Homo sapiens: one gene and its partners. The protein of the gene in region 6 interacts with the protein of the main gene of each other region in a biochemical or structural test. Each region holds a gene or a part of one and is shown on either strand. Other genes may lie near its edges.

Region 1 (4,174 bases), on a different chromosome or scaffold from region 6:
CTGTGTTAGGGGAAAGGGAGGAAGCAACAGGAACGTCTGCCTGTGCCTTGACGCAATACACTGGACCATCCAAGACCCTGAAGGGGCAGCTGCTTCTGGTGGGGGAGGCAGACTTGACTGTATACTTTGGTACAGTTTGAATTTAACTAAGTGTATTATTTATTTAATCACACACAAAAAGCATCTCGCTTTTCTTTTTTTGAGATGGGGTTTCATTTTGTCACTCAGGCTGGGGTGCAGTGGTGCCATCCTAAGTCACTGAGGTCTCTACCTACTGGGTTCAAGTGATCCTCCCACTTTGGCTCTGCAAAGTGCTGGGATTGCAGGTGTGAGCCACGGCGCCTGGCCCACAAGAAAACATAAATCGGGAATTACACTCAGGGCAACCAACCCAACTTCTGGGGCTTGTGGGTAGGTTTCCCGCACTGATCACAGAACACTGGCCCCAACAGCAGGAACACGTGCTCCTTAATGCTCCAGGGAAAAGGCAACTTCTGGTTTCCGGGATTGGCACAGACAACCAAAGGCACAAAGAGCCCACAGTAGCCAGGTTAAGTGGAGGGATGCTATTCCAACTGTTCCCCACCCCAATCCTCACCTTGTTCTCCTCCTCAGCCAGCCTCTCAAACATATTGGCATAGAGCTTCTTCTCCCGGGCAAGCTGCCTTCGGATCCGCTGCTGGCACACAGCCAGCTGGGTCTTGGCGGCTTTGTTGTTGGGGTAGAGCTGCAGGACCTTCTGGAAATCAGCCCGTGCCAGTTCAAAGTCATTCACGGCCAGGTGGGCCTCTCCCCGGCGGAAGAGGCCCTTCTCGTTGTTGCTGTCCAGTTCTAGGGCCTAAAGAATGCAGAGAGGAAGCCACATTGTGGGAGCTCAGGGCTTGTAGCTCATCTGGCCTAGACTGGGTTCCAAAGGTACCCCTCAGGAGGATGAGGAGGAATGCAAGTGGCTGGCTGCACCCCAGGAAGAACAAGGCCTGAGGCATTAAATGGAACAATCCAGGGACCTCATTTAATCCAACAGGCAGAGAGGGAAGACAGCAGGTCTTTGGATGAAATAAAGACTTCAGACATTAACATTCACTTTAGAATAAAGCAAGTAGGTAAGCGGAGAGGCTAAGAACCAAGGTGGAAGAAAACTCTTTATGTGATTCTTCCCATTCCGTGTCCTCCTCCTTCTTGCCAACTGCTTCCCACCAAAGCTAAGGTTCTTGCTATGAATACTTGCATCCGTGCCTTTGGTCTGTAACCTCAGAGCTCCCACTGATCCACCCTGCTATCCCTGCCCTAGTCACCAAGGGGAAGTTTCAGACATGCTGGCAGCTCACCCAACTCTGCCTGTGAATGCTGCTTCCATGACCTCTGAGGGGGCCTCACCTTGTTACAGCTTTCAATGGCAGCAGAGAAGGCCTGTAGTTTCAGATGACACATGGCCAGGTTGAGGTGAGAGGCCAGTCGAAGGGCCTGTGCTTTCTGTGCTTCCTCATTGGAAAAACTAGACTCATATTCCAGCCAAGACACGATCTTCTTATACTGTAGTAAAGCTTGCTTGTATTTACCTTCCTGGAATGGGAGAGAGGCTCAGGCACCTGGCACAGTTTCAGTGGTACTAGGCTCTTATACCCTGCAGACATCAGTGACACATGGCCACAAGAGGTTCCTGCTCCCACCCTTCCCACTGGCAAGGCCAGCAAGCTCACATATATGAAGTGAAGATGGCAGGTGCCAACCTGTCCACTTCTTGGCAGAAAATGATCTCAGTCACCAAGGGAAGGGGAGGCTCAGAGCAACTCTTCCTGGGAGTGTCCTTAGGACAATGACTGTTGGCTCACCTTGAAGTACACAGTGCCCCGCTCTTTCACTATGGTGCTCTGTTCCAGCTTCTCTTCTGAATTCATCTCCCAAGACTCCTTGGCCTGCCACACCCCAGGAGAGAAACAAAGTTGTCAGCTACCCCAGAGTCACGTACAGGGTGGAACTTGACTTTAGATGGGAAGACCCTGAGCAAACTTACCTTTTCAAAACTCTTGAGGTGTAATTCATATTTCAGCTCAGCATTTGGTGGGATTTGGAACTTTTCCTTCCCAACACTGCCAAAAGCATAGCTGGAGGGGTGAAAAACACTATGTATCATCTTGGCAACACTTAACCTGCTCCAGGCTGAAAAGGCTTCCTGTCCATTTCCTGGAAAGTACCTTCCCATCCCTTGAGACTTGGTTCAAATGTTTGGCAAATCTTCCCTGGCCTCTTCACACTGTCAGATGGTCCCTCAGCATCCTTCATACCCTTCTAATAACTTACAGCCAGGCAGCAGTGTGATTACTAATTTAAATAGCACCTCACTAAACAATGAGCTAGAATTAGAAGGCAGAAACAATGTTCTATTAGTCTCTGAAGCCCTATAGGAATTTTCAGCAGTGCCTGGCATGTAGTAGCTGTTTCAGTAATGACTGAAATGAATTAATGGGAGAGGAAAATCTTGATGGCAGAGGAGAGAATCTGTAGCAACTATGACTGAAAAGACTGGGCTTAGATCCAAGGAGATGTAGACAATTGGGCCATACTTCTAAGTACACTGAGGATATCATAATGGTGTATGTTTGGTGTGGCCAGAGTTAAAAAGGATACAAACAGCTGGTTCTACAATTCATTTTATATCTTTGATCTTGGTTTGCCTGCCTGCCTACCCTACGAAGTGCCCACCCCTCACCTGGGCTTGAGGTACACGATGGAATGTTCTCCTTTCTCCATGCGCTGAATGGCCCTCTCCAGACCATAAGGCAGATCCAGGTTCTCCCCCTCGCCAATCTCAAAGCGGAGCTCCCGCTGGTCAAAGAGCTTGTCCTTGTAGTACCCTTCCAGTGCAACTGGCATGAAAGAGAGGCAGTGTACCAGAGTTGTAAGAGGGCAGGTGACTGAGGAAGGATGCCATCAGCCTCCCTGCATCACCCCCATCATCCCAAGATTCTCCTGTGTTCTCAAATCTGGAGTGATATGAAGAGAATATGGTCCAACCCCTCATTTTATGGACAAGAAGATAGGCTCGGAGAACGGAAGTGTCTTGCCCAAAGCCACACAAGGCCTAAATATCAGAATGAGAATTGAAAGCCCAGACTGTACTGTCTCACCCTCCACGATAGCACCCTCATTGGGCTTAGCATAGCCTTCACCGCGAGTCTGTATTCTGCGAATGATTCCGCCATCTTCCTCTTCCGTCAGATCTTCTCCCTTAAACTCAAACAACTCCACCTGTGGGACAAGATGTGACACAATTCCTTCCCATGCTAACTCATGGGCAGTGAAACACAATCTTTCTCATCCGAGAGAGTCCCTACTAACTGCCAGGCCGGATCTGACCACAAGGGCAGTCACAAGGAGTTGGGTAGAGTGGCACTTTTTTTCAGTTCTTGGGAGCTGCCCTAATCTCAACTTTGGTAGAGGTGGGCAGACTACATAGATTTCAGTTAAGCTGAGGAGAGCAATCTATTTGCTACCTGCTCTACTAACACGGACATATCAGGACGCGTCCCAGATAATCCTAATTCACACTACCTGATAAGCCCAACCTGGTAGGTATTAGAAATGATTACCCAACATCTCTCAGCAGTTTCTCAGTATTCAAGGGCCCACGGATTGGCTCAACCATTTTCAGATTGAACAATGTCAAGTTCTATCTCCTCAGTGAAGCCTTTTCTCAGCCCTTGACCCACAGGGGAGCTACTGCTCCCTCTTCTGGTCTCTAGAGCACCAATATTCTGTACTGCCATTTATAACGGGACATAGTTTCTGACATCCCGACTCCTTTCAGTATTCTTCTGGGTACCGCTCTGGAGATAAAGATGCCTTAACCCTGACCATGCTTTGAGTCTGGAGAGGGGCTTGTGCCTGCCTCTTCCCACCCGAAGCTTCTATTACTTCCATTACTAGCAGCAGCAGAGCCCTCTGCATTTCTCCTCCCATAAGGCCAGACCCTCAGCCTTGGCTACATTGTCTCCAAGAAGCAGGAAGGGCTGGAGGGCAGCCAGGCATTGGGCTGAGATAAGGCCTGGCTCTTAGCCTGGATCTCAGTGACCAAACACTCACCTCAAATACAAGCGTGGCATTGGGGGGAATCTTTGGAGGACTGCCTGCTGAACCGTAGGCATATTCTGGTTTGCAGGTGATGTGGCACACC
Region 2 (4,174 bases), on a different chromosome or scaffold from region 6:
GGCTGCATGCCCCTCTTTACTGCTGACCACCTTCCCACTGGCTCCTCAGGCCAGAGAATCTCCAACTCCAGCCGACCCCCATCCATCCATCCATTCATTCATCACCCTAAATGTCCCCTGAGCTGGAACAGCATCTGCCTTCCTGCCAGGTGCCAGATGTGTCTCAACACAGCGCAGTGCCTTGCCTTGGAGGGCGGTCTGTAAATAATTGAGTGAACATTTATTGAGCACCTACTGTATGCTGAAGGGAAGCAGGTAAGTCACAAACCGGCTTTGCTGAGCTCCGTGCACGCATGTGTGCGTGCATGCGTGTGTGTGCGTGTGTGTGTGTGAAAGGGCATAAAGAGAAGGTCCTAGGAAGATGAGGGCAAGCAGGAGGGCACAAGGACAGAGCAGGGCTGGGCCTGGGCTGAGCGGAAAGCAGGGAATTTGGCCCGGCCTGGGATCTAGGCCCTGGGGAGAGGTGGTGGCTCTGGAGGAGCATGGGTGCCTGGACCTGGGTGGTCCACTGAGCAAGGGACAGGCGGCTACTTCTGAGGGCAGGACAGCAGCATCCTGGAAGTTGTGGCACCTATGTCTTTAGGAACCAAACATCCAGGGAAATCGGAACCTGAGCATCAGAACCTCTATCAGGGCGCCTCCTGGATTTCTACACAGGACAGTAGCTTTCAAGTTTTTTGACCAAAATCCGTAGTAAAAGCAAACATCCTGTTTGTTATTTTAACTTACTTTATATTTATTTTTTAGAGACAGAGTCTTGCTCCAATGCCCAGGCTGGAGTGCAGTGATGCGATCACAGCTCAATTGCAACCTCCTGGGTTCTTGCCATCCTCCCGCCTCGGCCTCCCAACGTGCTGGGATTACAGGCGTGAGCCACTGCACCCGGCTATATATTTAAAGCTGAAGTAAGAGCGTCACAAAATAATATTTACCCTCACTACATGCATAGTATTTTGAAATTTTCTTTTTAATTTCATTTTCGGAAAACAAGTAGTGCAACTCACTAAGTCAATTTCCCAACCCACTAACGGGGCAGGACCTGTGTGCAATTTTAAAGCACTGGCCTGAGTGGGGGTTAGGAGCGGTGAAATGGGATCCGGCGTGTGTCTTGAAGCTGTGACGGGCGGTGCTTGGACTCCGGGCTTTGTGACACACAACCATGTGGGGAATTGTTGGATGTTATGGGGGAATACTGGGAAAAGTCTGTTAGACCCCCCAGCTCACAGGACCGCCACTCTGCAGCCCAAATAACAGGGACTCTTTGGGGTCTGGTTCCAATTTTTTCCCCGGGTCTTTTAATAGAGCCCCCTCCTGCCCTGATAACAGATGCCATTCAGCAGTTGCTTACACATCTCCCAGGACAGGGCGCTCACCCACTTCTCAGGCAGCCCACTTGACTGTGAGGAGTAAGCTCTGCCGGGCTGCTGATGTAGCTGCTAAGTGGGGCCCCGCCCGTGGCTGGCTGGCCATTCTCCTCTGTCCTCTAGCCTGTTGTCTCAGGGAGCCGGGACAGCTCTGGCAAGTGGTCCTCTCTCTGCCCCACCCAGTTCTCTCTCTCTGCTGCCCAGCCACTGCCGGGTGTCTGTTGGGGGCAGCCTTGGAGCCCAGCCAGAGAGAGGCCCTTTCCAAGGTCAGGTGGGCTCAGGATCTGAAGCCTCATGGCGGGGCTGGCACTCAGCCAGCCTTGCCCACCAAAGCAGTTCTGGGGGCCTGGGTGAGGGAGGGCCGGGGGAGGCTCAGCTGTCCAGAGAAGTGGTACCCCAAGGCAGTGGCTGGTGATGGGGGTCTGGAAATCAGGCCCAGCAGTGCCCTTGAGTGGTTGGGTCACAAAGTAGTTCATATCAACGAGCTATGATACATTCATTCACTCACAGGCTCACAGGATCTTCCCAGTCACCCTCAGAAACAGATGCAAAGGGCCAGGCACGGTGGCTCATACCTATAATCCCACCACTTTGGGAGGCTGAGGTGGATGGATCACATGAGGGTCAGGAGTTCGAGACCAGCCTGGCCAACATAGTGAAACCCCATCTCTACTAAAAATACAAAAATTAACCGAGCATGGTGGTGCGCACCTGTAGTCCTAGCTACTTGGGAGGCTGAGGCCAGAGAATTGCTTGAACTGGGAGGCGGAGGTTGCAGTAAGCTGAGATCGCGCCACTGCTCTCCAGCTTGGGCAACAGAGCGAGACTCCATCTCAAAAAAAAAAAAAAAAGAAACAGAGGCAAACGCCCACCCTTACGGGGCAGGGGGTAAAGGCTCAGAGAGGTGAAAAACCTGCCCCAGATTCCGCAGCTGCTAAGGGGTGGAGCTGGACATGAACCCAGATCTTCTGTTTCCCAGTCACGGGCCTCGCCTGGGACAACTGAGGCTGGAGGAGCCTTGGGGTAGGGGAGGGGGAGGTGGGCCACTCCTCCTGTCTTGCTGAGAGCAGGCTGGGTTTCTCTGCCCCAGAGGGCAGGGCGAAGGAAAGAGGGAGTCAGGGATCAATTAGCAGAACCTTCCAGACACGAGTGGGCTTCCCCGGAGATGGGGAGCTCCCCGTGAGGAACAGTGAGGAGGGACTTGAGGCCCATTTCTCAGGATAACTGCAGAAGGGTATCCATGGGCACGAGGTTTGAAGGATGCCCAAAGCCCCTCTGCCTGCTCCATTTCACCCCCAGCCAGGGCCTCTCCAGCCTGTGCCCACCACCTCCCCTGTATGGCCCCAAGGAGCCCCTAATTGCGGACCCCATCCCATTTGTCTCCCAGGCTGAGTGGTACCTTCACACTCACAGGGCAGAGGGTCCTGGGCTTCTCAGGCCTATGAGGAGAGGGGAGGCTCCTGGGGGAGTCTAGGGTGGGGGCTGGGAGAGGAGCTGCAGGGGGTTGGGGGAAGCTTCACTGAGGTGTCCCAGGGGCCAACTCTGCCACCAACTTGAAGATGGGCACACCCCTCCCCTAGGCCTGAATCTCCCCATCAGTAAAATGGGGTCAGCTCCCCACAGCACATGCACCCTCTCCTGTGGCCCAGCTAAAGAACCCTCCCGTCCGGGTGCAGTGGCTCACCCCTGTAATCCCAGCACTTTGGGAGGCTGAGGCAGGCGGATCACAAGGTCAGGAGTTCAAGACCAGCCTGACCAACATGGTGAAACTTCGTCTCTACTAAAAATACAAAAATTAGCCAGACGTGGTGGCACACGCCTGTAGTCCCAGCTACTCGGGAGGCTGAGGCGGAAGAATCACTTGAATCTGGGAGGGGGAGGTTGCAGTGAGCCGAGATTGCACCACTGCACTCCAGCCTGAGAGACACAGTGAGACTCTCAAAAAAAAAAAAAAAGAAAAGAAAAGAAAAGAAAAAAGTAGCCGGGCATGGTGGCGCATGCCTGTAGTCCCAGCTACTTGGAAGGCTGAGGCAGGAGAATCGCTTGAACCCGGGAGGCAGAGGTTGCACTGAGCTGAGATTGTGCCATTGCATTCCAGCCTGGGTGACAAGAGCGAAACTCCGTCTTAAAAAAAAAAAAAAAAAAAAGGAACCCTCCCATCCCTGCAGCCCGGGTCGCTGGTGTGTGAGCTTCTCCCAGGACAGGCAAAACAGGAAAAGGCTGAGCACGCCCCACCATCCCCATGGGTGGCCCCCGATACACAGAGGGGCAAAGAGAGGCCCCCAGATGGACAGTGGCCTAGTCAAGGTCATGCGGAGCCAGTGAGGGGCTGAGCTGGGATTCGATCCCAGGCCCCTGACGCAGGCCACCCTTCCTACTGCTGTGACCAGGGAGTGCTGCCCTTCCCCTCGCTCCGATCTGGGGATTTTCTGGGGAGAAGGAGCTTAAAGAGACCCAGACCCTGCTCGCCTCCCACAGACCCCACAGCTCTGGGGAGTGTCAGTGAGAGAGGAGGGGCCGGCAGCCCTGGGAGCCATCAGGACACAGAGGAGTCAGGAGCAGCTCCGGGTTGAGAGGCTCTGCCACCATTGCTGAGTGACCCTGGGCAAACCCTGGTGGTCTCCGGACTCGGTTTCTCCATCTCCCAGGAGAGGAAATGGAGAGAAGGCCAATGCAGCCGCAGACAGGAGCTGCTGGGCCAGGCTTGGTGGGGGCTTCTCCTCCATCCCAGTCCCAGGGAGCTCCTCCGCCCAACTGCACCTCCCATGCCCCAGCTCCCCTCTGCCCTGCTGGGGGCCCCCCAGGCCTAG
Region 3 (4,174 bases), on a different chromosome or scaffold from region 6:
TGAAAGAACAAGTGCCCAATGCTTACAAATATACATATTTTTTCATCTTCTCATAGGTTATTTGCTATTAACATGAATGATTAAGACAAAATACATGCCTTTCTAGTGCAGAAGTTGAAGACAGAGAAGAGCTCCCTGAGCTTTGGAAGCAGGTACGGAATCTAGGTATTTAGAGGTCTATGGGGCAGAATCATTAGGTGGTAATATTATACACATAGCCCCAGTAGCCATCAACTCAAATATTATCACATTATCTCATAGGAATTCATCAGCACATGACTCTCCAGCCAGGATTTTTTTTCCTGTAGCTCAGGCAGATGCTCCAGGGCTCCTTTCTGCAGAACAAAAAACTCTCTAACCTTACATACGCCATCTTCAAGTTCTTCTGGAGGCAAGTCGGGGTTTCTTTCCACATGGAGGTTCCAGCGATCTAGCTGTACAACTGTCCCATCTTCCACTTGACACAGGATCTTAGAAACAGGTTCATCAGTGTAGCCCTGAGGAATCAGAGAACATATCCATTGCTGTCCAGAGTGGAGAACAGTGAAGCCAATGCTATTTTACGCAAGGAAGAGCCAAGCCGTTATATTGTTTATTTTATAATTAGCAAGGTTTGAAGAGCAAATTTTTTACCTTGAGGTACTTAGAATTTGAGACAATACTATAAGTAAGATACATAGAAACACTAGTTCTGGCTGGTTTGAGCTGAGGAATATTTTTTGTCAGCAGCAAGAACCAATAGTCACCGGTACACATTAAGGGTCATACTGGAGGCTGGATGGCTACTTTGTTATCAGAGTAAAAAACAGGACTCCCCATGGCTCTCACTGGAGGAATTTGGGGGAAACACAAAACAAATGTGTTTGGAGAGGCAGGGAAAGAATCAAGGAGGGATTGGATTGACAATGCTTATCTATTAACACTCCCTCTCAATCACCTCTCCCTGACCTCCTTGGAAGACACCATTCTTCCCGTGACCTGAAGCAAGTCTCACTGAGGAATGGCCCTGTTAGGGAGCTACTTAATCCTTGAAGATCCATTACTGACAGCACGATAGACTGTCCTCAATAGGATATGCAAGGCTCTGATTTGGAAGGGAGAAGTTAACACTGATGATAACCTTAGTTGCCCCATGTAAATACGTTTTTTATTTCTACACTGCCTACTTTAAAAAAAGACCTGTGGAAGGTTAATTTGCCCAAAGGTCAACTAGCATCTACTAAATATCTGAATATAATTTTCACAGAGCCCAGCCCATGTAATGCTCTCATATGAGCAGATAAAAAGTTGGTGGGGACCAGGTGCAGTAACTCAAGCCTGTAATCCCAGCACTTTGGGAGGCTGAGGCTGGTGGATCACGAGGTCAGGAGTTTGAGACCAGCCTGGCCAACATGGCGAAACCCTGTCTCTAATAAACATACAAAAAAAATTAGCTGCACAGGGTGGCGGGCACCTGTAATCCCAGCTACTCAGAAGGTTGAGGCAGGAGAATTGCTTGAACCTGGGAGGCAGAGGTTGCACTGAGCTGAGATCGTACCACTGCACTTTAGCCTGGCGACACAACAAGACTGCATCTCAAAAAAGAAAAAAAAAAAGTTGGTGGGGCTGTATATGTGTATGCATATGTATATATACACAGTGTGTGTATATATATTGCGCCTTCTTACTATCTTAGTACTATAACATACGTAAGTAAATAAATGGCTGTTTAGTGACTGCAGAACGATTTCCCCCAAGCTTGCCTGAAGTTGGCTTCATTGTGGAAAGGACAGGTAAGTACCTATACAGCCAAAGCTCTGATGACACTAATCAAAACAAAACAAAATAAAATGCTAAAAAAAAAAAGTCATAACTCTCCCAAGTAAGGTGTGTAAAGTTGAACCAGATGTGCTATCCTAGCTGGGGCTGAGAGTCTGGATTAACTGAAGTCTGTATGATCCTTTTGCACGCAGACTTGAGGCCAAACTCACCCACTGTCTTTTAGTGGATACCTCAAAAAGCCGCAGGCCTGTGTACTAACCACTATATTTCTCTCATACCAAGCTTTCCTTTCCCTTCTAGCTGATTTTAAGTTTAAACTGAAGAAGCTACCAGATCAAATAAGGGCTCAAGGGCACTTTGATTCTCAACTCTAACTTATGCCTGGGACAGCAGCAGCAGTACCCCCCTCTTCCATTAGAACATCAGTGGATCTGGAATCCGGTTTGTTGTTTGATGATATGGGCAGTCCCCGAGAGCAGTTCTTACCCCTCCCCAGTTGAGAGTTCGAGCCAGGTCATTCCCAGTCCCCAGAGGAAGGACCCCCACAGGAGGCTGAGGGCTCAGCTGCAGTTCATCCAGGATGGAAAGGATCCAGCCCACCTACAGGCGTATCGGGGGCCAGAAGAGATATAAGAAAGATAAATAAGTTACAAAGAAAACAGTTTGAGAAACAGAGGCTTCCAAGAGCTAAACAGAATGGTTTTATTTTTCTTTAAAACATGTATGTTTTCATTCAGTGAGTAGGGAACAGAAAGGTCGCTTATCACAGGCAGTTACAAAATGGTTAAAGGAAAAAGGACCATTTTGCACATGTTCTATCACACAAGCAAAACTAAACCCATTCATGCGTGCGTTTAACTAGAAACACCCTTGTAAATTTCTCAGAGTTTAAGACTTTGGTAGTATAACAGGGCATAGGAGGGAATATAAAACTCAGAATAAGACTGAATTTCAATTCTGACTCATGCTGGCTGCATAACCTTGACTAAATTATTTAACCTCACTGAGACTCATTTACTTGATTTTCAAAATGGGGATAATAATACGTACCTCACACGATTGTTTACTAATTAAACTAAAATGTACATAAAGCACTTAACATGGTACATGGCCCATATAAGTACTTATTAAATGGTTGCCCTCTATAGTATCATCTTGGAAATTGATAGTGTTTTCCTGAATATCCCTCTATTTTCCTTAATGAAACATTATGAAAACATAATTATGGACAGACCTAGTACCTATTATAAGTTTAGGCAGGAAATTGATACTTATATACTAGAATCATATCCCTGTTTAATCTTTTTCTAAGATAAATAATACTTTGGGTTTAGTCTTATAACTAATTAGAAAAATTGACCAAAATTTGAAATGGCAAAAAGGAGTTTGAATGTCCTTATAATGTCATACTAAAATAGTGTTTCGCAGGCCTAAGAATTGTGTAACTGTAGGTTAACATAGATTTCTGTCCTATAGAGACACAAATGTCAAGAAGAGATGATTGCTTTAAAGTTTATAGTTTTATTCTCTCATAGGACGTTGATCAGTTTTGCATCAAATTTAGAAAAATTATTTTGATACGAAGTACATAATTCTTTTTCTCTAGTTCTGATAAATCAGCTTTACTATCTTGCAGGCTCCCTCATTAAAGAGCTAAGCAAATTTTTTGACATGTATTCATTCTATATTTGTACGAGTCATGTTTCTCAAAAATACTAGATCATTTGTTTATTGAACACTACTTCATATAAAACCCAGAACTAAGCAATCAAAATAAAGAGATAAATGAGCTAGGCTGTGACAGATAAGGTAGAAAGATTGCTCTCCAGGAGTTCACAGTAACACAAAGATGGACATACCGATGCTTTTTTTTTTTTTTTTTTTGAGATGGAGTCTCAATCGGTCGTCCAGGCTGGAGTGCAGCGGCAAGATCTCCGCTCACTGCAAGCTCCACCTCCTGGGTTCACGCCATTCTCCTGCCTCAGCCTCCCAAGTAGCCGGGACTACAGGCGTATGCCACCACGCCGGGCGAATTTTTTGTATTTTTAGTAGAGACGGGGTTTCACCGTGTTAGCCAGGATGGTCTCAATCTCCTGACCTTGTGATCTGCCCACCTCGGCCTCCCAAAGTGCTGGGATTACAGGCGTGAGCCACCGTGCCAGGCCCATACCGATGCCTTTCTATGTGCCATGCCTGAGCAAAGTCCTTTAATGAATTATTGTATTAAACTTTAAAACATTATCTGTAAGACAGATATTAATGTAATTTTCATTTCCATCTTATAGATAAGGAAACAGAGAATTGGAAAGGTAAGTGACCTCCTTAGTATCACACAGTTTACACGATATAGATGGCATTCAAAAATAGGAATGCCTAATGCCAGTGGCCAACCCCTTAACTGCTAAGGTATAGG
Region 4 (4,345 bases), on a different chromosome or scaffold from region 6:
CTCCACCTGTGCCTCTAGATGTAGGTGGAGGGGGAGTCTCCCTGATCTCCCTTGCCCCTCACACACCACCCTGCCCCAGTCTTGGACCCCTCCCTTTCTCAGTGGGCCCTGTTGCTGGGCTCTGGGTTGCCATAGTGACGGTTGCCAAGTCCCTGAGGCTGATAGCCAGCGATGGGGCTGTCGGCTCCATCCACGCGGGAGGCTGAGGGGGGCTTCCCATTGTGTAGAGAAGGGGATGTTGCCATGACAACCAACCCCCACTAAGGGGCAAGGACCAGCCTTTCCACCCCCTACGAGCCTCCCCACTTCGGGCAGCTCCAGTGTGGGCTCAGAAGGCAAGAGTAAATTCCAGACAGCCCAGTACCTGGCCTCCCAGCTTTCAACTCCCCTCCTGCGGTGCCCGCACCTCTCAAGACCCAGGCATCTTGCTCAGACGGGGAGGGGGAGGAGCAGGGGTCCCACTGGACAGAAGAGAGGAAGAGGGACCCCTTGACCTCCAGACAGATGGGAGACAGCGGGAGGGGACCTAAAGTCAGGGGAGGGGCAGGGAGGGCAGAGGTTGTGACCCCTGCTGACTCGCTCCAGTGATGCTCCTGACGGCTGCTTTTGTGGTTGGAGAATGGGGCTAAGTCTAGGGGACTGGGCACCTGGGCTTTTTGGGGGAGAAGAGCCTCGGTTATGGGTATACAGGGAGCCAGGGCACACGCAGCTTGATGCCTGGGTCCCTCCCTGAGTCCTTCCTACTTCCTTCTGATCAGCCACATCCCTTCTCCCCATGAGTCCCCAACAGCAAAACTTCTCAAGTGCCTTGGGTAGGGATGGTAGGGAATAGACTTTAACATGTGAACATGTTTTTACCACTTTGATCCTAATTGCGTCTTACCCTGTCTCTGGTGCTTTGGCTTAGCAAGACACTCAGACTGTCCCCATGGATGAATTGGCGACCCCACTCCTGCCTGCATTACTCTCTCCCTCCCCTAGAGGTGACACCTTCCTCTGCCTTCTCGCCCAGCCCATTTTCGCCTCCCCAAGCACTGCCAACCTCACCACTCCAAACTAGCCCTATCCCTACCCACCCCCCTTGGTTGGTTTCATGCAATCCAACCCTCAGCTGAAAGCCATTCTAACCAAGCCTTTGTCCCAATTCAAGTCCAGTCATTCTCCAGCCTTCTTGTCAACTTTTGAAGTTTTTTATTTTTATTTTTTTTGGTTTTTGTTGTTCAAATTTCCCTTTTACAGTAAAACTACTGAGGTGACGGCATACCCCGCCACCATGGCAATATCAACTTCCTGTTCCCCAGAAGGAGCGATTAGAAAAATCAGGAAGGAGCTGGGAACTACAGCACCAGAGAGGTGAACTTGACCTCTGGTGGACAAAGCAACCATCTTGGCTGGTGATTGAGGTGGCCAACCTGGTGCCCAACAACAGCTTTGATCTAATAAAACTGAGCTGGGAGGAAACTGAGGCAACACCCAATTGCACACTAGAGGGCAGGAAGAGGTATCAGCTGGTCACTATGGAAACAGTGGCCTTTGCTAAGTACCACTGTCAGCTAGACCAGCCAGTAGGCCACCATTTTGGTCACTAAGAAGGGAACTGTGTTGAGTCTGAAAGGAGTCAGAAATGTAGGATGGAATGAACAAGACAGCCATCTGGGTTACTCGGGAGAGCACATGGGTTCTTGGGGTAGTCCTGTTGATTAACAGAGATTATACTGGGATATGGAAAGGAAAGAACAAGACAAATTAGGCCTGCCACAGCACATGGCAGTCATCTTAGCTGTCCTAAAATCAGCACAGAGCACAAGGGAAGGGAGATCTTGGGAAGTGCCACTGAAGACTGGGAAAAGTCCTTCTCGGTCCACCTCTAACCTCTTACAGTCAGTAAGTTCCAGCTTCCTCCTGAAAGGAAGTTCTTCCCGCCCTTCTTCTCCACAGAATAAGAACCATCCACCTCCCACCTCCTGATCCCCCAGACTAAGCCACTTGGAGTTCCAGCCAGACCACTTCCTGTTTCAGAAGTGCTACTTCCTGTCCTGGATGAAGGCACTTCCAGTTCCTGCTGCACTGCTTCTGCTACTTCCCAGGCCATTTCTGTCCGGGCCTGGTCACCTCTTGTCTGGAGCAAGTCACTTCCGGTCCCAAGTGGCCCATTCAGCATCAGACCAAGTCCATACATGTCCCGACCGGTTCATATCTTGCTATTGGCCACTGGACAAAACGGGACACTTCTTCTCATGGTAGCTGTCATGACCCAACCACCCCAAATGGCTGGAGTAAGTATGTAGAGGCCTGGGCCAGGCCAGAGAATGGAGCCCTGCTGCCCATGGCCTGAGCTGGGGTGGAGTGTCAGAGCCTTCCCCATAAGGCCCCCATTTTTGGCAGACTGAGGGGAGTGGTTGGTATGAGAGGTCAGAAGGGGGGCTGAAAGCTAAGGGGAGAAATGCTTTGATGCCCCCACCCAGGAGATGGGAGAGGCACAGGATAAGAAGCCAAGAGGGTGAAAGGAGATGTGGGGAGGAGGATGCTAGGGAAGAAGAACAGACCTAGAGACGGAAGAGAGGGAAAGAATAAGAGATAGAGAAGAGAAAACCAGTGAGAGGCAGAAAGAAGGCGGTGCCAACCAAAAGGTGGGCTGTTCCCGCCCCTAGCTCTGGGTGGGTGAGGGGGACAAGGATGCCTGGGTCATGGTCAGAGAGGAGGCTGAGCCTGTGCCCCTCCCCAAGGAAAAAGGATCCAGGGACACTGAGACAGAGGGGGGCACCCATGGCCAAACGGGAGGGCAGGAAGTGGGGCAGTGGGAATCCTAAGGAATCCTAAAAGTGGAGACGAGGACAGCAGCCGGGAGGAGTGAAGGGGCTGGGGGGGCACAGGGGGCCGAGATGTTAGAGGTGTCCCTCAAACCAGGAATTAAACTGGAGGAGCACCCCAAGAAGGGCTGGATTCAGGATAGCCACGTGAGAGGAGCCCTCATACCTTGTAGTAGATGTTTGGAGGGCTCTGGGGGGGCCCATCCTGCACGATATACACAGGATGCCCATAGTCACCACTCACCTTCTCATAGTGGGGGCAGAAGGGGGGATCTGCAGCCCCGCCACCCCGCAGAGCTATCCCTAGCTCCCCAGGCTCAGCCTCCCGAGGTCCCATCCCACCTCCACCCCCCAGGCCCAGAGACCCTCCCCTCCCGAAGGAGCCAGGACCAGGGTGGCGACTCTCCGAAGGCTTGGCCCGCCGTCTCCGCCAACACATGGCACCCCCAGCCCCTGCCACGCCCAGCAAGAGCAGCGCCAGCCCCCCTGCTGCCCCAGCCACTGCAGGCATGCTGGGAGGGGGCAGGGGGCCTTCAGCACCCCGGGAGGTTGCATTGCTGGTGGGGTCACCTGGCAGGGAAGGGGTGAAGGAGGAAAGAGGGGGAGGGACTGAAGGAGCCACCTGGGCACCTGGACACCCAACCCTGGGGGTCCCCATGGGCTTCCCTTGTAGCGCCCAGGCCCCTTGGGGACCCCATCTCTCCTCCCCCTCCGAACTCTGCTCAGAATCCAGGTGTCCAGCCCTTCAGCTTCCTGCCACGGAGTCCTCCCCACTTCTCTGACAGCACTGATTGAAGCACTGACTTGGCTAATTAGTTCTAATTGAGTCTTTTCCTCATTTGGTTTCCATTCCCCTCCCACCCTCCCATCCTCTCTTCTCCTCTTTCCTGTATCACCGCCCCCAAAACTGAAGAGGGAGGGAGGGTGACGGCAGGGCAGCTGGGGTCTGAGAGCAGAGGAAGCTGGGGAAGGCAGGGGCCTAGCCCCTGGTTCCTACCTGGCAGGTTCTCCTTCCCAGGCTCCAGGCTGTGGGCTGCCCCTCGGTCTCTTTCCATGGGCATTTCAGACACAGGTTTTCGGGGGACAGCCCCTCCTCGGGGACCTGGAGATGAGGAAGACCCAGAGAGGGGCTGAGACAACTGCCCCAACCATGATCGTACTGCCCCAACGTCCCTTCGTGCCCAGGAGGTGTCCCCCAGCCCCACTCACTTTGTCCCACTCGGAGAAGCACCTTCATGCCTCTGGTTAGGCACACACCTCCCTGCAGGCTCTCCAGGCCCTCCCGGGTCCCATCCGATGTGGCTGGGAGAGAAAAGCCAGAGGAAGAGGTTGGCACTCCAGAATCTAGCCCTGATTCTGGCCCCACACCCTGGTGTGAACACTGCCTGAGGGCACTGGGATCTCCCTCTTGGCTGCAGGGGTCCCCCTCCCTCTCTGCTCAGTATCAGGAGCCCCCCACTCAATCGTGCCCTCTGCCCAGCAGTACCAATGATGTAGTAATCGTGGTGCGAGCGGAACTCGTGGCCCCAGAGATT
Region 5 (4,174 bases), on a different chromosome or scaffold from region 6:
CCAGGGCTGATCTAATCAGCTGAGATAAGGCTGCAGCGTGGGCTCTCTACTCTGCTCTGAGAACACAGGAGGTTTGTTTACATCCCGAGAGCCTCCCTAGCCCTCGGATCCAGCAGGGATTTCGGATCTGCTGCCTAGATTACAAGCTCCAACTTCAATGCACCTCTGTCTCTGAGGCCCTGAGGGAGCCAGCCCCCTCCTGGCTGTCTCCACCGGTAATCGGAGCAATGCCCAGCTTGGTTACTGGGCTGGGACAGAGGGAGGCTTGTCTCTTTGAGACCTGTCTTTTACAGATTGGAAAACTGAGGCTCAGAGAAGGGAATTGTCCACGATCATCCAGGGAGTTAGTAACAAGGGTGCTGGGTCAGCTCCTGGCAGGGAGACATCCAGAGGCTCCTGAACCCTTCCCCCATTTCTAGCTGGCACCCTAGGATCCTGGAGTTCTTGCTGTGGGAATGGGCTGCCCTGAGGCTTGGTGAAAAGCTGGTTGCAGGCAGTGCCAGGCCTGGCTCTCTCCTGAGTGATTGTGTTCAGAGTAACCCGACCTTGAAGGCGACATTTGAACCCTCACTCCACCCCCACCCCCAGACCTGGTTTAACCATTCAGGCACCAGAGCACCAGACCATGGATTGGTGTGTAGTTTCTTTTTACCTTCTAGATTTTTATTTATTTATTTTGTCCCTGGGGACCCAGGTCCCCAAGTAGAATTTCAGGTGTTTCTGGTCACTGTCATTTGCACCTTCGGGGAAAATAAAAATGGTCTTTACCTCTGTCTGCTTAGGACAGGTGGTCAAAGCTGTGTGACCTTGGGCAGGTCTCTGACTATCTCTGTATCTTTTTTTCACAGTCTGAAGGGACCTGATTGGTTGTTGAAAAGTCTCTGGGCTCAGAAGCAAAATGATAACCTATTATAGATTATATTCCTTTACAGTTTGCAAAGCACCATCTCCCTGTCCCCAGGCTAGCTTCCTTCCAGCAACAGAACTGCCTCTGCAAGTTTTCCCAGGCCTCTGATCCTTTGAGCACTGATCCCACTGGCCAGGAGGAAGGCAGGTAGGGGTTAATCACAGCCACTATTCATTGATCACGTGCTGGGTCCCTTGCACACACAAATGCATTCCTCTTAATCCTCATCACCCTGCAAGGTGCTACCAGCCCTAGTCACAAAAGAGGAAACTGAGGATTTCAGAGATGAAATAAACTCCCAAGCTCATATAGTTAGGAAGTGGCAGAACTCACACTTGTGAATCTGCCTTGATGCACAACCACTCTGGGTGGTAGAGTCACAGTTGTGGGCCCCAGGTTTTAGCCATTCTGGGGAATGTCTGGCCCTTAAGAAGTGGGTGGGGTGGGGAAGAACAGTTACGAGTAGTGTACGCTGCTGGGGGTCTCCTGCTAGAAATCATTCTGGTGGGTCCAGGTGTTGGAGCCCCAGGTACTCACCATCCCCTCTCCCCACTAAATTTGGCTTGCCCAGTTATTACCCTTCTGGTCTTGCCTCCTGAAAGAAGGGTCAAGTGTGTCCCCGACCCTACCTCCCCTGGGGAGGAGCCAGGTCGGGAGAGGCTCTCATTAGTTCACAGTTATCCAAGCCCTGACCCTGAACTCCTCTCTGGTGCCCCAGCCAAGTTTCTGTTCCTTTGTTTAAGTGATATCACTTTCACCTTTGTTTACTCCTAGGCAGGGACAGGGTTGCCCTGGAGCCCTGGCCCAGCCAGTGTGTTGTGGACTGGCGGGTTAGGCTGGAGAGAAGTGAAGAGTGGGTGGCAGTGAGAAGCCTAGTTGTGGTTGGGACGTGTTCTTGAGGAAGATCTGGATTTGAATCCCAGCTCTAGCTTTCTAGTTGCATGACGTTGGATAAGTGACTCAGCTGAACCTCAGTCTTCTCATCTGCAAAATGGGTAGAGCACCTTGCAAGGCTGTTTTGCCATTTAAATGAACTTGTATAAACAAAGTACCCAGCATGGTGCTTGGCATGTAGTGGATACTCCTTTTAGTCACTCATGCTTTTCCTGGGGTGATAGAAGCCATAGGATTTGGGGATAGGGTTGGGATAGGACCTTTTCGTAGCTTCATGCCTATAGCCAAAAGACTAGATGGGGAGTATAACTGTAATGACAGCTGCTGCCTGTGGATTTGCTGAGACCCTTAGGGGCAGCCAACACCCTGGAAGGGGAGAGAAGATAATTCCAGTCTGGGAGCCAGGATACCTAGGTTCTAAGTCCATCTCCGCTGCCAGCTGCTTGGATGACCTTGGCAAAATCCCTTGTCTTGTCTGTTTGCTAGGTTATAAAATCAGATACCTTCTGTTGGCAGGTGTTAGTTTCTGTAGAACAAAAGAGCACTTCCCCTCCCTTCTTTCTCCCCAACAGTCTGGGGAAGAATGTAGTATCTCTAAACCCCCAGGCACTAATCCCAGATCCCCACCAGCCACAGGGCCAGCAGAGTCTGTGGGACCTAGGCCCATTGCCCTATTTTTTATTTTTTGGAGACAGGGTCTTCCTCTGTCACCCAGGCTGGAGTGCAGTGGCACGATCGTAGCTCACTGCAACCTCGACCTCCTGGGCTCAAGTGATCCTCCCACTTCAGCCTCCCGAGTAGCTGGGACCACAGGCGTGCACAACCACATTTGGCTAATTTTTGTAGAGATGGGGTTTCACCATGTTGCCCAGGCTGATCTCAAACTCTTGGGCTCAAGTGAGCCTCCCACCTTGGCCTCCCAAAATGTTGGGATTAAGCCACTGTGCCTAGCCACCACTGTCTTACTTAGTTGGTAATTTCTGTTGTGTGTTCATGAAAGGGACAAAGATACAAGGAGACTTGAGAGCCCAGAGAGGGTGCCTGTGCATGTATACACACGAACACACATGCCTGGGCAAAGGTGGGGTGAGCTGAGGAGAACAGACCACATTCTTAGCCAGGAGCAGGGCGGGGTCCATCTCTGGTCAGGGCTGGGCCTGGCTGCTGGGTGGCCTGGTTCTTCAAAGTCACCCCAGACTCAATGGGCTTTATCTGAAAAGAGGGCGGAGGAGAGGAGGACCGTTGGTGCCTTCCCAACCTTTACACAAAAAAGAGTGATTGCCCACAATCCCACGGGGCTTGGTCCCGTCTTGCTGGCCTAGTCCTAAATGGCTCTTATCCACTTTGGAGTTGCCTTCCCTCTTGTCAGAGGTCATGGGTGGAGAAGGGACCAAAACAGGGCAGAGAGGGGGCTTCCAGAGCTCAAGGAGAGATTTAATTCCCTGTGTCCTCCTATCACCACTGGGAGCTGGAAGAAGTTTCTTCCCAGCCCCTTGACTTGCTGTAGGAGGGAAATCCTGGGCTCATCTAAATGCAGCCTTTGAAGACTCCATCTTTTCAGAGCTTTGAAATAGGATCGAATCCAGGCCGTGCCGCGGAGCCCCGGGGTGACTTCAGACTAGACTAGTTTCTTTTTTGGAAACTGAGTATAAAAATGAAGGGTTAAGGATGAACAGGTGCCCACAAAGAGGGCTGAACTGGGAATAAATCTTGGTTTCAGCCTTGGTTTTGCTGCTGACTTGGCTGCAAGATCTTCACGCCCCACTTTCGCTCATAGCCTTCATTTCTCTAATGTAAAACGGAGGTAATTCCTAACAGCCAGTGGGCATGCTAATCCCATGGGTTGTTTTGAAATACCTCTTAGCACTTTCACATACTGAAAGAGAGGCTGGATGCATAAACAACCTTCCATGGCTCCTGGGGGCAGTGAGGGGTGGGAAAAGGTCTCTCAGCCTGAGACAAGTCTCCTGATGGAACTACAGCCCCTGTTGAGGACTTTGACCTGGTCAACAGCTGGCCAAAGTGTACCATTCTTTCTTTCTCCCGGCTAGATTGACCCCCCTACTTAACAGGGCTCCCTTGGAGCCTGGGGCAGGCTGGTGACCCCGTGTACATATGTGTTCATGCGTGTGTTTATGTGTTTGTGGTTAAATGTCCAGGTCAGTGAAGCCTGGGTTCTGGCCCAGTGTGGCTACTTCCTGCTTGTGTGGCCTTGGACAAGTGACTTTACTTTTCTGAGCCCTTGTTTCCATCTCTGCAAAAAGGGACTATTAAAAGGACCTAGACAGGCTGTGTGCTTGGTTAAGGCCTGTCACTTGGGTTCTTGGGGGATTTGCCACAGGAGATGGAGGTAGGAGCACAGGGACCCTGCCC
Region 6 (4,174 bases):
GAGACAATCCAACCTGCTCTGCATCATGAACTCGCGCCGCCGCCGCTGCTCCTTGGCCTTCACCAGGTGCTGCTTCCTCTCCTCCTTGCTCCAGTAGCGCCCCATCTTCATCTCGCTCACCGCGTCGTCGTCGGTGGTCATGCCGCTGCGCTCTTCCCGGATCTTCAGGGCGCGCTCCCGCAGCAGGCGGTCCCGCACGGGCCTCTTGGTGATGTAGCGCGTCCCGTCGCTGCGGATCTTCACCTTCCACTCCATGCGCGGCTCCGACGGGGTGGGAGAGCTCAGGTCCTTGCACATGCTCACCAGGCTCATCTGGCTTTGCGCGTACTCCACGGCCGACTTCTGCTGGATCAGCTGCATGTAGCTCTGGTAGTGCTGGGCGTGCGCCGGGATGTGCGCGTGCTTGTATGGGGAGTGGTGATAGGAGGGCAGGTAGGCGCTGCCCAGCTTCTGGCTGGGCGTGGGGCTCCGGCTCCCGTCGCTGGCTCTCCGCTCTTTGCTTTCCAGGGGCTGGTTGGGGTCCAGCTCCTTCAGGGACGGGCTATAGGTAGGGGTGCCCACTTCGGGATCTTCCGTGATGGAGAGCAGATTCTTGGAGGCTGGCCCGTAGGCTTCCGTGGTCCCCACAGCCCCTTCGCTGCTCGGGCAGCTGATGCCCTCCGCCGCTCTCCTCAAGGAGTTGTCGGGGGAGATCTCCAGGGTGAGCGGGGTGCTGCGGCAGCTCTCGCCTGTGTTGTAGGCGCTCGAGCTGTCCTTGTCGGATTTCTCCGGGAGCTCGGTGATATCTGAGAGCTCGTGTCTGCGCACGTCGATGCTGGTGTTGTAGTTGCGGAAGCCGCTGTTGTGCAGCATCCAGGACTCGCGGTACTGCTCCTTGAGCTGCTGCATCTTGTGGGCGCGCACGATGCTCAGGCACTCCAGCTCGATGCTGCGCAGCTCTTCGTTCAGCAGCTCCAGCTCCTTGTCCACGCTCTCAGGGTCACTCTTGCCGGCGTCCAGGGGGCCGCTAGGGTAGTACAGGCCGTAAGGGGTGGCGCTCTTCACCTGGCACTTGAGCTCCAGGAGCTCGCGGAAGCGCTCGCACTCGTCCACCGGGATCCCCAGGTAGTCGGCGTCCGTGCAGTCGGCCGAAATGAAAGACTCGTTGCTGAAGGGCAGGTCGCCGCTGCCCAAGGTGTCCTGGCTGCAGGTGAGCTTCCTCTGCCCCGCCAGCGGGTTGGAGGATGCGGTGGCGTCGTCGCCATTGTTCTCTTGCTCCGAGCTCTCGTCATTACGGGTGCTCTCGTCGGTCCGCCCCACACCGCTGTCCTTCTCGTGCTGGTTGGACAAGATGGTGGCTGTATCTGTGGTCCCACCGTCTTCGTCGTGCTTCTTCTGCATAAACACAAGAACAAAGGGTCACAGTGAGGGAGGCCTGCGCAGCAGGTACTCAGGTTTGACCTTTCCTTGCGGTTTCTGGATAGGGCAGGCTGTACATTTCTAAGGCCAAGGGACAGCATCTGACAGTAGGACCACGTCAATAGCGTGGGCCTTAGCTACACCTACCCGTATCTACCTGGGCAAGTCACTTATTCTTGTTCTTGTCCTCAGTTTTGTAAAATGAGGATAATAGTCACTTTATCTCAATGAATGATTCTCAATGATTCTGTTAAATGAATCAGTACACAGGTAGAAGGATGTATAAAGGTCCTTGTTCAACTCAATAAGGACTCAATAAGTGGCTCATTAAGACTCTGACAATGGTAGTAGCATAGCAGGGAGCTAGAGAGCTCCAAGCAGCTCCTGTTAAACAGAGGGGATTGCTTTACTTTGGAAAACATGGCTTTTTGCAATCTATGGTAATGCCAACGCATATGTTTTCCAAACAAATTATCAGAAGGTCAGCTTTGCTTTGGCAATGTTGCTTAGATTTAAAAGCTTAGCTAGGGACAGTACCAGCTTGCATTTCACTGGTCTGGTGCTCAAATAGAAAAGTACTTGAGGCTGTTTTCTTGCTGCCTTCCAGGTGGATGGACTTCTGATGGTCTTTAGCACCATAAAGGGAGATGGAGGAAGCAGATTTTCCTCCAGCTCAGCAGGGCAGAGTGTCAGGGACTGGTGCGTGGGCGTTACCTGCTGCAGCACGCTAGCTGTGAATTGCATGGCCTGGTGGTGCTGCTCCTCCAGCATGTCCATGTGCAGGTCATCCAGAAAGTCGTTCCTGTCATCATCCATCCAGCCCTCATCCAGCTGCAGGCAAGAGCAGCCAACACATGCCTTAGAAGTTTCCTTTCATGTTCATTTATGTTTTTTTAAAAATGACATTACCTTGGGGGAAAATATTTCTAGGGCTTCCTCCAAGAGTCATCAAAATGCAGTCTGCCCAATGATTTGCTGTTAAGTCAGGAAACTATCCAACCCTTACATTAAACAGACCTCCAACCCTACACTACATCTGGGGAAGTCTTTAATATCCATGATTTTTTTTTTTCAGGGTGAAACTCTTTCATCCATCTCAGCTACCTTCAGTGCAGTAGGACACCTGTGTAGGAGGGTCAGGTAGATTTAGCTGGTCCACCTGCTTGCTGGACCAGACACGAGTTTAACAGGTCCCATAGAAAAATGATTTTCAGTGTGAAAAGAGTTCTTTCTGATACAGTAACTAGCTGTTTGGCTTGGGCAAGATATCACTTTTTTTTTTTTTTTTTTTGAGACAGAATCTCACTCTGTCTCCCAGGCTGGAGTGCAGTGGCACGATCTAGGTTCACTGCAACCTCTGCCTCCCGAGTAGCTGGGATTACAGGCAATGCGCCACTATGCCCAGCTAATTTTGGTATTTTTAGTAGAGATTGGGTTTCACCATGTTGGCCAGGCTGGCCTCATCCTGACCTCAAGTGAACCTCCTGCCTCAGCCTCCCAACATGCTGGGATTATAGGCGTGAGCCACTGAGCCTGGCTGGATATCACTTTTAAGAGGCCTTTATCTGCCTTGCCCAAAAAAGAGTGAACTATTCAGAAGTTGGCACTCTATAGCCCATGGGCTGAATCCAGCCTGGTATTTTTATAAATAATAATAAAAAAAGTTGAATGAGAACACAGCCATGCTCATTCGCTGACATAATTGTCTATGGCTGCTTTTGCACTAGAGTGACAGTCTAGCAGTCATGGCAGAGATGGTATGGCCACCCAAGTCAAACATTTACTATCTGGCCCTTTAAGAAAAAGTCTGTGACTGTGGGTGAGATGATTGCTGAAGTTCCCTTTGAGCTCATGAGGCTCCCATCTGTGGAGAATCAGATGCCCCGTATGCCACTGTCTGTCTCTCGGCTTTTTCAATCGGGTTTCATACTGATATGGTTTGGCTGTCCCCACCCAAATCTCACCTTGAATTGTAGCTCCCATAAGTCCTACGTGTTGTGCGAGGGACCTCGTGGGAGATAATTGAATCATGGGGGCAGTTTTCCCCATACTGTTCTCATGGTAGTGAATAAGTCTCATGAGATCTGATAGTTTTATAAGGGGAAACCCCGTTTGCTTGGTTCTCATCTCTCTTCCCTGCTGCCACGTAAGACGTGCCTTTTGCCTTCCACCATGATTGTGAGGCCTCCCCAGCCATGTGGAACTGTGAGTCCATGAAACCTCTTTTTTCTTTATAAATTACCCAGTCTCGAGTATGTCTTTATCAGCAGCATGAAAACGGACTAATACACATACCTAAAGAGATCTACTACTGGATTGCCCTAGATGTGTTGCTGGAGCCATTCTAAGTGGATCAAGAGTGCCACCTGGGTGAGTTCATGATTCCTCCTGTGGAAGGAGTTATTACAACACAGAGGTTTCTGAATCAGATTACTTGGGCCTGAACCCCTCCCTGCTTTATCACCCTCCTTCTGGGCCTTTCCTGGGTAACTTTTGAATCTCTGGGAACTTCCATCTCCTGGGAAGGCTCTCCTGTGTGTAAAGTGCTCCACGGAGGGCCTAGCACTTATTCGGTGGTCATATCAGTTTTAATTATTTATCATTCAATGTTTCTTTTAATTTGAAAGAGCAAGTTTTAATTCCCCATACTCTGCTATTGTAAATGAAACCTGCACAGATCAAGGCTGGAACATATGTCAGGCCTTGGGAAGTCAAATGTCTTGACGTGACCCCGGTTGTGTTTTCCATTCAATTCTGTTTCCTTTTCCTTCCCTAT
Region 7 (4,174 bases), on a different chromosome or scaffold from region 6:
GAGGAGCTGGTTGAAGAAGTGCTGGTAGTTGCAGAGGAAGAGAGACTAGGAAAGCCTGTGATAGAAGCGGAGCCCACATTTTCTGTACTGAAAATGTATGGTGAAGAAGGAACAGAATGAATGGTAGTGGAAAACACTGGAGTTATGCTGGCAGAAGATGGAGAAGAGGACATGATAATAGTGGGTGTTGAGGACCAGATGATGGTACTAAAAGAAGTCAAGATTGCATTTGTAGACGTACTTCCCCTAGTGAAAGATTCTGTAGTGAACTCACTTGTAGATGTGAGTGAAGTTTGCAATGAGGGAGTAGAAGGAGTTGTTTGAAGGGTGGAGGAATGTGTGCTAGGAATAGGAACCTGTGATGTTGACACGATCGTGCTCAAGGCTGTTGATGGAGTAAGAGTATGAAGAGTGGACGTGGAGGAATCCGTACTTCCAAAGGTGACAGTAGTAGGTGCAGGAGATGTTTGGGTCCCAGTGGCTGACGTCAGTACAGGAGGGGTCTGTGTTGGGGTTTCAGGTATAACAACAATACTTGTGCTAAAGGAACTGATTGGGGTGTTCTCAGTAATTCTGAGGGTCATTCTCACAGTGGACATGGTGGGAGAGGTGGTGCCCACAAGGGATGAGGTTTCTGTACTTTGGATGGAGGGAGAAGATGAAATGATGTGTGTTCGAGTTGGTAAGGTACTGATATCAGTGGGTATAGAGGGAAAGTCTGTGGTTGTAGTCAATGAAGTGCTGGTGCCCACAGACGAAGGGGTGAGAGTTCGTAGGCTTGTGGTCGGGATGTCTGTACTCAGAGAAGATGGGGTTACAGGTGTGGGAGTCACCGCAGTCTCTGAGGTAGTAAAATGTGAGGTGATGGCAGTTGTGGATGTGCTGACTGTGGAGTAGATGGTTGAAGAACTGAGGCTGGGAGTACTCTCTGAGGTGGTCTCAGTGGTGGTGATTGAAGAAGTGAAGCCAGGAGTACTGTGTGAGGTAGTCTCAGTGGTGGTGATTGAAGAAGTGAGGCCAGGAGTAATGTGTGAGGTGGTCTTGGTGGTGGTGACCCACGAAGTGAGGCCAGGAGTACTGTGTAAGGGGGTCTCAGTGGTGGTGATTGAAGAACTGAAGCTGGGAGTACTGTGTGAGGTGGTCTCGGTGGTGGTGATCGAAGAAGTGAAGCTGGTAGTACTGTGAGAGTTGGTCTCGGTGGTGGTGATCGAAGAAGTGAAGCTGCGAGTATTGTGTGAGGTGGTCTCGGTGGTGGTGATCGAAGAAGTGAAGCTGTGAGCACTGTGTGAGGTGGTCTCCGTGGTGGTGATCGAAGAAGTGAAGCTGGGAGTACTGTGTGAGGTGGTCTTGGTGGTGGTGATTAAAGAAGTGGAGCTGGGAGTACTGTGTGAGGGGGTCTCACTGGTGGTGATTGAAGAAGTGAAGCTGGGAGTATCATGTGAGGTGGTCTCAGTGGTGGTGATCGAAGAAGTGAAGCTGGGAGTACTGTGGGATGTAGTCTCAGTGGTGGTGATTGAAGAAGTGAAGCCGGGAGTACTGTGGGATGTGGTCTCAGTGGTGGTGATCGAAGAACTGAAGCTGGGAGTACTGCTTGAGGGGGTCTCGGTGGTGGTGATTGAGGTAATGTAGCTGGGAGTACTGTGTGAGGTGGTCTCAGTGATGGTATTTGAAGAAGTGAAGCTGGGAGTACTGTAGGATGTGGTCTCGGTGGTCCCCCACCTGTGTGAGGTGGTCTCCGTGGTGGTGATCAAAGAAGTGAAGCTGGGAGTACTGTGGGATGTGGTCTCGGTGGTGGTGATTGAAGAAGTGAAGTTGGGAGTACTGTGTGTGGCGTTCTCAGTGGTGGTGATCGAAGAAGTGAAGCTGGGAGTACTGTGTGAGGGCATCTCAGAGGTGGTGATTGAGGAAGTGAAGCTGGGAGTACTGTGTGAGGTGGTCTCAGTGGTGGTGATTGAAGAAGTGAAGCTGAGAGTACTGTGTGAGGGGGTCTCGGTGGTGGTGATTGAGGTAGTGTAGCTGAGAGTACTGTGTGAGGTGATCTCGGTGATGGTGATCAATGAAGTGAAGCTGGGAGTACTGTGGGATGTGGTCTCGGTGGTGATCGAAGAAGTGAAGCTGGGAGTACTATGGGATGTGGTCTCGGTGGTTGTGATCGAAGAAGTCAAGCTGGGAGTATTGTGGGATGTGGTCTCAGTGGTGGTGATGGAAGAAGTGAAGCTGGGAGTACTGTGTGAGGTGGTGGTGGTTGTGGTGATCAAAGAAGTGTAGCTGGGAGTACTGTGTGAGGTGGTCTTGGTGGTGGTGATTGAAGAAGTGAGGCTGGGAGTATTGTGGGATGTGGTCTCGGTGGTGGTGATCGAAGAAGTGAAGCTGGGAGAGCTGTGTGAGGTGGTCTTGGTATTGGTGATTGAAGAAGTGAATCTGGGAGTACTGTGTGAGGGGGTCTCGGTAGTGGTGATTGAAGAAGTGAATCTGGGAGTACTGTGTGAGGGGGTCTCGGTGGTTGCGATTGAAGAAGTGAAGCTAGGAGTACTGTGTGAGGTGATCTTGGTGGTCGTGGTTACCAAGTTTGTTGTTGGAACTGTGGCTGTTACTGTGGTGAGGAGAGAGGAAGAGGTGGGTCGAAGAGAGGTCACAGTGGACAATGTACCTGTCATATTGGTGGAATAGGTGGTTCTGGTCGTGGAATCTGTGAGAGCACTAGTAAGAGAAGTAGGGTAGGTGGTCTCAGATGTAGGTGTAGAACTGGTGTCGGAATTGGAGAATGTGGTCACCAATGTAGATAGAGGGGTGGTGTTTGTGGTACCACTGGTGATCGCTTCTGTACTTGGGACAGGCGTAGAAGATGAAACGCTACTGGTAAATGATGGTAACGTATTAGTGGCTGTGGGCCCTAGAGGGGTGGTAGTTGTCATCGAAGTCACCGTATATGTGGAGGTGATTGAAGAAGTGATGGGGGGAGTAGAACTCACGGCTGTTTTGAAAGATCCTGTGGAAATGTCAGAGGTAGGAGTCAGTGTGGTGGTCTTAGGGGATGTGGCTGTTGAACTGGTGAATGTAGTCTGACCTGTGCCTGTAGTTGCTACAGTGGATGAAGGTGTTTCCATCTTTGTAAATGTTGTGAATGACATGGTGGTTGTAGGTGATGGGGTGGATTCAGCTGTTGTGTGGAGTGTACTGGTGATGGCTGGGGGTGAGGAGATACTCTGGGTGTGAGTGGTCCCTACACTGCTGGCAGACATGGAAGAGGAAAATGAATGTGTCACTGGAAAGCTTGTCAGGAGGGACCTTGTTGGAGTGTTCTCAGTACTTGTGAAAGTTGGTCCTCCACTGGGAGTGGTAGCAGACATCATGCTAACAAAGATTGAGGTTTCTGTATTCTGGACAGTGGGAGATGAAGGAATGACACTTGTTGGCCTTGCAGACATGCTGGAGACTGTGTACACTGAGGTGAGGTCTGTCATCATAGGTAATGAACCACTGATGCCCACGGATGAGGGAGTAATAGTTGTTGGTTGTGAGGTAGGGATACCTGTACTCACAGTAGATGGGATCATGGATGTAGAAGTCACCATGGTACCCAAGGTAGTGGGAACTGAGGTGATGGCAGTGGTGGGTGTGCTGGCTGTGGAGTAGATGGTTGAAGAAGTGAAGCTGGTGGTACTATGTGAGGTGGTCTTGGTGGTGGTGGTTACCAAGTTTGTGGTAGGAGTTTTGGCTGTTTCTGCGGTTGAGACCAAGGAAGAGGTGGGTGGAAGAGAGGTGGCAGTAGATGATGTCTCTGTCATAGTGGTGGGATAGGTGATTTCAGTTGTGGACTCTGTGACAGTGCTTGTGGGAGAACTAGGGTAGGCGGTCTCAGATGTAAGTGTAGACCTGGTGATGGTAATGGGGAGTGTAGTCACCAACGTGGATACAGGATTGGTGTTTGTGGTATGACTGGTGGTCACCTCTGTGCTTGGGACAGGTGTAGAAGATAAAATGCTACTGGTGAGTGGTGATAACGTATTAGTGGCTGTGGGCCAAGAGGTCGTAGTTCTCATAGAAGTCATTGTATCGGTGGGAGTGATTGAAGAAGTGATGGGGGGAGTAGAAGTCATGGCTGTTGTGAGAGATTCTGTAGAAAAGTCAGTTGTAGGAGTCAGTGTGGTGGTCTCAAGGAATGTGGCTGTAG

Evidence for each region.
Region 1: the proteins of PDZRN3 (region 6) and FKBP4 interact in a test that uses a peptide from one of them, tested with the Homo sapiens proteins (one large-scale study listed by IntAct).
Region 2: the proteins of PDZRN3 (region 6) and KCNJ4 interact in a test that uses a peptide from one of them, tested with the Homo sapiens proteins (one large-scale study listed by IntAct).
Region 3: the proteins of PDZRN3 (region 6) and DGKI interact in a test that uses a peptide from one of them, tested with the Homo sapiens proteins (one large-scale study listed by IntAct).
Region 4: the proteins of PDZRN3 (region 6) and EFNB3 interact in a test that uses a peptide from one of them, tested with the Homo sapiens proteins (one large-scale study listed by IntAct).
Region 5: the proteins of PDZRN3 (region 6) and SDC4 interact in a test that uses a peptide from one of them, tested with the Homo sapiens proteins (one large-scale study listed by IntAct).
Region 7: the proteins of PDZRN3 (region 6) and MUC3A interact in a test that uses a peptide from one of them, tested with the Homo sapiens proteins (one large-scale study listed by IntAct).

What each region holds. Positions count from the first base shown.
Region 1 is NC_000012.12:2,797,781-2,801,954, reverse strand, and holds part of FKBP4 (peptidyl-prolyl cis-trans isomerase FKBP4), read right to left. Parts: coding exon 4,084-4,174; intron 3,250-4,083; coding exon 3,129-3,249; intron 2,868-3,128; coding exon 2,711-2,867; intron 2,106-2,710; coding exon 2,015-2,105; intron 1,917-2,014; coding exon 1,833-1,916; intron 1,564-1,832; coding exon 1,378-1,563; intron 839-1,377; coding exon 599-838; intron 1-598. UniProt on the Homo sapiens protein: Immunophilin protein with PPIase and co-chaperone activities. Component of steroid receptors heterocomplexes through interaction with heat-shock protein 90 (HSP90).
Region 2 is NC_000022.11:38,444,756-38,448,929, forward strand, and holds part of KCNJ4 (inward rectifier potassium channel 4), read right to left. Parts: intron 1-4,174. UniProt on the Homo sapiens protein: Inward rectifier potassium channels are characterized by a greater tendency to allow potassium to flow into the cell rather than out of it.
Region 3 is NC_000007.14:137,584,850-137,589,023, forward strand, and holds part of DGKI (diacylglycerol kinase iota), read right to left. Parts: intron 2,362-4,174; coding exon 2,248-2,361; intron 498-2,247; coding exon 360-497; intron 1-359. UniProt on the Homo sapiens protein: Diacylglycerol kinase that converts diacylglycerol/DAG into phosphatidic acid/phosphatidate/PA and regulates the respective levels of these two bioactive lipids.
Region 4 is NC_000017.11:7,708,202-7,712,546, reverse strand, and holds the end of EFNB3 (ephrin-B3 precursor), read right to left. Parts: coding exon 4,297-4,345; intron 4,113-4,296; coding exon 4,020-4,112; intron 3,913-4,019; coding exon 3,808-3,912; intron 3,381-3,807; coding exon 2,971-3,380; 3' UTR 1,175-2,970; downstream 1-1,174. UniProt on the Homo sapiens protein: Cell surface transmembrane ligand for Eph receptors, a family of receptor tyrosine kinases which are crucial for migration, repulsion and adhesion during neuronal, vascular and epithelial development.
Region 5 is NC_000020.11:45,338,055-45,342,228, reverse strand, and holds part of SDC4 (syndecan-4 precursor), read left to right. Parts: intron 1-4,174. UniProt on the Homo sapiens protein: Cell surface proteoglycan which regulates exosome biogenesis in concert with SDCBP and PDCD6IP.
Region 6 is NC_000003.12:73,383,557-73,387,730, forward strand, and holds part of PDZRN3 (E3 ubiquitin-protein ligase PDZRN3), read right to left. Parts: intron 2,230-4,174; coding exon 2,113-2,229; intron 1,375-2,112; coding exon 1-1,374. UniProt on the Homo sapiens protein: E3 ubiquitin-protein ligase. Plays an important role in regulating the surface level of MUSK on myotubes. Mediates the ubiquitination of MUSK, promoting its endocytosis and lysosomal degradation. Might contribute to terminal myogenic differentiation.
Region 7 is NC_000007.14:100,955,846-100,960,019, reverse strand, and holds part of MUC3A (mucin-3A precursor), read right to left. Parts: coding exon 1-4,174.